Homo sapiens: one gene and its partner. The protein of the gene in region 2 binds, or shares a complex with, the protein of the main gene of each other region. Each region holds a gene or a part of one and is shown on either strand. Other genes may lie near its edges. The genes, in order: SEM1 and ERCC5.

Evidence for each region.
Region 1: ERCC5 (region 2) and SEM1 share a complex: the UniProt entries of both Homo sapiens proteins name them as parts of the homologous recombination repair (HR) complex.

The regions. Positions count from the first base shown.
Region 1 is NC_000007.14:96,690,340-96,692,961, forward strand, and holds part of SEM1 (26S proteasome complex subunit SEM1), read right to left. Parts: intron 1-2,622. UniProt on the Homo sapiens protein: Component of the 26S proteasome, a multiprotein complex involved in the ATP-dependent degradation of ubiquitinated proteins.
Region 2 is NC_000013.11:102,852,249-102,856,078, reverse strand, and holds part of ERCC5 (DNA excision repair protein ERCC-5), read right to left. Parts: coding exon 3,786-3,830; intron 2,323-3,785; coding exon 2,207-2,322; intron 1,792-2,206; coding exon 1,705-1,791; intron 28-1,704; coding exon 1-27. Other genes in the region: BIVM-ERCC5 protein, read right to left, coding at 1-27, 1,705-1,791, 2,207-2,322, 3,786-3,830. UniProt on the Homo sapiens protein: Single-stranded structure-specific DNA endonuclease involved in DNA excision repair. Makes the 3'incision in DNA nucleotide excision repair (NER).

The DNA of each region.
Region 1 (2,622 bases), on a different chromosome or scaffold from region 2:
TCCTAATGGGAGGTGGCTGGTCACTAACTGCATGTATAAATTGTTTACAATCACAAACAAGATGATGAAATGCTCTTCTATCAGCTAAATTCTTAGAAAAGATGAAAAATTCTTTGCTAGAATTTAAAAAACCAAAAGAAAAAAATTGAGGCCACCAAGTACAAAACAAAAACACTAATAATCATGAGGCTGCTGAGTGGAAAAATCAACAAAGACAAAAATAGAAAACCTCAGCACAACTGTTAATATCATACGACATACACAGTGAACATACACTATCTGAAACGAAAACAGCAGCAGTCTTTGTGCAACAAAACAAGAAAAAAGACTAATGGCCACTAGTAGGTTTGAAAAGTCCTCTTACTATCCAAGAAACTACTCAGCTTTATGACAATGGCTATATCTGATTTGGTAAATCAGGAACTATACTGGATTTTTTTGTTGTTGTTGAGATGGAGTCTCGCTCTGTTGCCCAGGCTGGAGTGCAGTGGTGCCATCTCGGCTCACTGCAAGCTCCACCTCCCAGGTTTATGCCATTGTCCTGCCTCAGCCTCCCTAGTAGCTGGGACTACAGGCGCCCGCCACCAGGCCCAGCTAATTTTTTTGTATTTTTAGTAGAGACGGGGTTTCAACATGTTAGCCAGGATGGTCTCGATCTCCTGACCTCGTGATCCACCGGCCTCGGCCTCCCAAAGTGCTGGGGTTACAGGTGTGAGCCACTGCGCCTGGCCTATACTGGCTTCTTAGAGTTTTTATGTAAGACGTGAAATAGGGTTGAGAAAAATCATACTACTACCTATTTCTCTTAATACATAAACAAATGATATCAGAAGCTGCAAAATCAGAATGACTTTGAGTTACCTGGAAGAACAAAGTGGCCTTATTCTTTCTACTTCTGTTAAAGGTAATTACACGGAAAGAGAAAGACGAATGTGGAAAGTGGGGGGCCTGCGACATGGACAGTTTTTATTTAACACACACACACCACAGTCTAAGCACTCTACACATGTTAAATCACTTAAACGTTATAATAACTCTAGCAGTAAAGCACTAATTATCATCTGAGTTTTATGTGTGACAAAAGTAGGTCACAGAAAGGCTAAGTGAGTTGCCCAAGGTTCATATGGCTAAATAGGAGGCAGATCTGGGGTTGGAACCCCAGCAATCTGATTCACACTAGAGTCTGAGATGCCTCTCCACTGTTAAATAGGATTAGGACCAAATAACATCAGACAACAGTAAACTCCATTCTTTACCATGACTTATGATATTATGTTAAGGGTTTCCATGTACTTTACAGAAAAGACTAGGAAGAATAACTTTGTGTGAGTCTTTTAATCAAGACAAATTTTTTAAAGCAAGGATTGTGCGAGGCTGTTTTATTCAATATGGTAGTCATATGTGGCTATTTTAATTGAATAAAACAAAAAATTCAGTCCCTTAGCTGTGCTAGCCACATTTCATGTGCTTAGTAGCCAAATGTAACTGATTGCTTCTATACAGCAGCTTCTCAAACATTTCCATCACTACAGCAAGTTCTATTTGACACCACTGGCAATGTGGCAACAATCTTAGTGAAGAAAGAACTCATGACTCAAATGGGGAAATAAAAAGAAAAATCTTATTCACTAATGGAGGCATCAAGATTTATATACCTCAGGCAAAAAACAACAACAGTGAAAAAACAACAAAAATAGATTTATATACCTATAGAAATCCACAAACCTAAAGGCAGAAACACAAGAGTACATAATGGCACTGTGGGGGTGTATTATAAAAACAGTAAGCCACAAATATATAATGTTCTATTTCTAAAGCAATAAAAAGGCAACATGTAATGATGTGAAATCTAATTATCAATACATTTACTACTGAAAGTTTCTTGGTAAAAATTATAGTATTCAACAATGTATCAATCAGTTTTAAGAGAAAAGTGCTAATGAAAGACATAAAAGAAACAAAACTTCAAAGAAATTTGACTATTTTGAATGTCAAAGGAAGAAAACTTGTTTAGCCTCAATTTCAAAATGTCAAAAACATATCAGGAAGAAAACTCTGACACGTGATTAAAAACACAGAGTAGAGATCAACAGCATTTGGAAGACCTGAAAATAAATAGTCTAATAGCATAATGATGCCAAGGCGGAACAAAAGGGAATGTATATTTTTCAAAAGCTAGTAGGGTGTTCTCTAATGTGGCTCATTTTTTGAAGGACATAAAACAAAGACAGATATAAAAAGAAAGGGCATGAGCTTGTACACATAGAATTAATCTGATCCTCGAAATAAACTGAAATCTGTAAAAAGAACAGAAGGGGCTTCTAAGAGCCATATACTGATCATGAAGAATGAGAAAGAGCAGGTACAATGCTTGGAACAGATGATGTAACATTAACAGATTTTAGAGAAAAAGCAGGATTATTGTTCAATAGCTATCATTTTTATCTTGTCCATAAAACTATAAAAGGAAAAACAACATAATTAAGACAAAATTGAAAACTAAGACAGGTAAGATAACTGCATTAAGGCAGTTTAAAATCTCAAGGCTCTGGATAATTACATCTCAGGGTACTAGAAGAACCAAAAGATGTAGTCAAAAATCAGTCAGCAATATTTGAGACA
Region 2 (3,830 bases):
CATTCTTTTTCATCTTCCTCTTCTGAACTGAAAGTCAAACATACTTTTACGATATCTATGATTTTTAAGGACCCCTTACAAAAATACTTGTATGCAAGGCTCTGCTCGTTATACGGGCTACAGTGGTGAATAAAACAGCAAGATCTGTGCCACTACTGGTCTCATGGTCTGGTGGGGGACACGTGTAAGTAAGCAATTAGAGTGGGATCTAATAACTTCCACCACAAGGGAAGGGCAGGTCACTAGAGATGCAATAGGGAGTCACCTCACCCAATTTAGGAGTCACAAAAGCTTTCCAGGATCTCCTGCAATTACACTGGTTGGAGTTAGCCACGAATTAATGAGTGTAGTTGTAGGGAGCGGGAAGGTTCATGGAGAAGAGTGTTCCAGGCAAAAGAACTAAGTTGTATGACCATATAGAAACAAGGAAAAGAAAGCCTGCCTGTGGATGATGTGAAGAAAGGCAGGGATAAGACTGGAAAGTGTAATTAAGGAGTTAAAGTTTTATCCTAAAGAAATGAGAAGCTAAGCTGCGTGTGGTGGCTCACGCCTGCAATCCCAGCACTTTGGGAGGCCGAGGCAGGTGGATCACTTGAGGTCAGGAGTTCGAGACCAGCCTGGACAACATGGTGAAACCTCGTCTCTACTAAAAATACAAAAAATTAGCCAGGTGTGGTGGCACGTGCCTGTAATCCCAGCTACTCCGGAGGCTGAGGCAGGAGAATCGCTTAAACCCAGGAGGCAGGGGTTGCAGTGAGCTGAGATTGTGCCACTGCACTCCAGTCTGGGCAACAGAGACTCCATCTCAAAAAAAAAAGAAAGAAAAAAATGAGAAGGAGAAGCTAGAAAGTGTTTTAAGTAAGGAAATGACAATATCAGATTTGGATTTTAAACAGACTATAACACAAAACAGAGATTGGGCTTGGTGGGAGGAACTATTACAAAAAGGGTATGATCAAAGACAAAGACAGAAAGAAGTTTAAAAGCTAATAATGTAACCTGGAGAAAAAATGACAGTGGTAGCAATGGAGACAAATAGAACTGAGCTGATACAAAAGCTAAGTTGTCTCTTGGGAACTCCTGGGAAAGGAAGAGGTGGAGGGAAGGACAGGGGACAAAGGCAAACTGCCAAGCTTCCGGTTCTCCACCTTCACTTCAAACACAGAAACCACCAACCATTAAGAGAGAGACAGAGGAAGAGGAGTCCACAGAGAGGCTGAGCAGAAAGCGCCAGAGAGATGCCGGGGGAGCGGGGCAGTGTGGCATGGTGTTTAGTGCAGAGAAGTCGAGCACACTAAGACGTGCAAAGCGTCTGCTAGATTTAGCAACAAGAATGTCATGGGTTGTGGTATTTTAGCATCATGGTGAGAGAGACCATACTGGATTGAAAAGCAGCTAGAGACAGCATGTGTAAGCAAAGTGTAAGCAAAACTAAAATTCATGCCTTGGAGAATTTAGAATCCACAGCCCTGGCAGAAGTTCTTTAGAATGAAGAGGAATAAGAATCATGAATCACCAAAACACAAAGAATAGTAAATAAAAAATTTAGTCTTTGAAAAATATTCTGAAAGGTATAGAGCATGCCTATTTCAGATGCATTAAGAAATGTTCACATGCCTTATCATGTAGATAACACATCAAGGTTTAAATGTGTCTGAATGTAGCAATGACTAAAATAATATTCTTAAATAGTTAAACATTTACCTGTGTTTTTCTTCCTCTTGTAAAGGAGGCAAAACATAGAGGTCGTTTTCTCTTCGAACTTGGGTAAGACTGGGTAGTGCTTCATCTCTGGAAAGTACACAAATCTTTAAACAGATTATGCAGACCCTGCTCAGGATGGTGAACAGGGACCTGACCTGGCTGCTCTCAGGCCACTGCTGTGGAAAATAAATGCAGCCGAGAGAAAGGAAGGAACCTTGGCGGGGCTGCTCACCTAGAGTCAAGAAGACCATAATCAAAGTAAAAAGTGTACATGACGCAACACGACAGCTTTTTTTTCTCATTAGCAAAGTTGATTCTCACAGAACGGAGAATTGCCACAACTCCAAATTACCAGGTCAAAATGGCAGCCTACTTGTCTCATTTCACTCTCTATTTTCTGTTGAGAGTCAAAATTAGATAGGGAAAGAGAATCGCAGGAAATCAAGACAAAAATCACTTTTTTAAAACTTCATCTCTAACACGACTATAATTTTCCTCTTGCCTTTTGCTTCTGAAGGCAGTTTTGATGGCTTGTCTTTTCAAAAATGTTTTCAGAAGCTTCTCTGTCGTTTTCCTGGAGTCACTGGACGCTAAGTCCTTTCTCTGCCTTCTCTTCACCTATGAGAAGAAAGGATGTAAGATCTCACTTCAGGATATTAGACCACTAGAAACATTGCTGTGATTTATTTTCCAGAGAATTTGGTTTGTCTGAGTTTTCAGACTATGGCTGCTTTAGCATTTCCTCCTAATTGCCATATCAGTGTATATCTTCAGGTTGCTGCTACGTAAAGGACACCCAGAGTTTCCATCTATTACTTAATGGGCTACTACACAATATATTTGGGAAACTTAATTTACTTTCAGTTTCTTTTAAATGTCTTTTAATATGCCCAAGAAGTGGAAAGCTTAAATGCTTCCCAAAAGAAATTATTTATTTATTCTATAAAATGTCACAGTGACACCAAAAACAATTTCTAATATTGCTTTTTATAAACATGCATTACTTACATGTAATTCTGCCCTTCAATATTCAAGATTATATATCATGAGAAATTCTAAAATGTATAGAAATATCTTGTAAGAAATGTTCAAGTAGTGACAAATGGATAGTCCCTGTGCTTATGGCTGAATATCGGATAAAAATAACCAAGATATTCTCTTTTCCTTTCTAATCCTTCCACAAAGTACCTGATTTACAGTATGCCTTGGGTAACTGAAAACTGCAACATTCAAGACTAGACACTCTTACTGAGGCAACAAAGGTCCCCCAGCATTTATAAATGCTTTTTATTTTTATCCTATATCCTTACTTTTATCCTATATCCTCATTTAGAGAGTATCTGGTATGATTACAAAGTCATCATTTCATTACTTTGGTATTTTCAACAAATAAAAGTCATATATCCAAATGGGTGCTGTCATTTGGACTGTTTAAACATTATTTTATGTCATTTTTTTAGAGATGGGGTCTCCCTGTGTTGCCCAGGCTGGACTTGGGCTCAAGCAATCCTCCTGCCCCCGGCCTTCCAAAAACATTTTTTAAAACTACTTCCAGAACAATAAAGCAGCAACTCATTCTGACTCTTCTATATCATGGTCAATTTCCTTCCTAGATAATCCACTTTAGTCACCACTTGGCACCACATAACATTGCTTACTCCTAAAATCCAATTCCCCTTAAAAGAAGGCTTGCTATCACGGAGGATACTTGATCTCAGATTCAGGGAGGCACTTCCCAAAAGAGGGTTTCCACAGTGTTCTGAGTGATGGCCGCATCCTTGAAATAAATATAAAACACCTAACAAGATCCTCTGAAGGGAAAACTCTCAACAGCAAGGTTTTTAGTAGTTAGTTTTATTTAAAAGTTAAATTTTATCATTGTACCCATGATGAACTCTCATAAAACTTTTTAAAAGAAAAATTAATTGTTCAAGATAAAAAAGTAGATGTAATTAAGTATGTGTCAAAATAAGTCTGTTTCTAAAATTCTAAAGAGAAAACAAAAATTTTATGTGAATTTTTCTAAGAATGCAGAAAGAAAAAAATTATTTGACACTTACTAAAAACTATACGACACTTACCAAAGTCTGTTTCTTCAATAGTGGAGCATCCCCATCAAACACAAA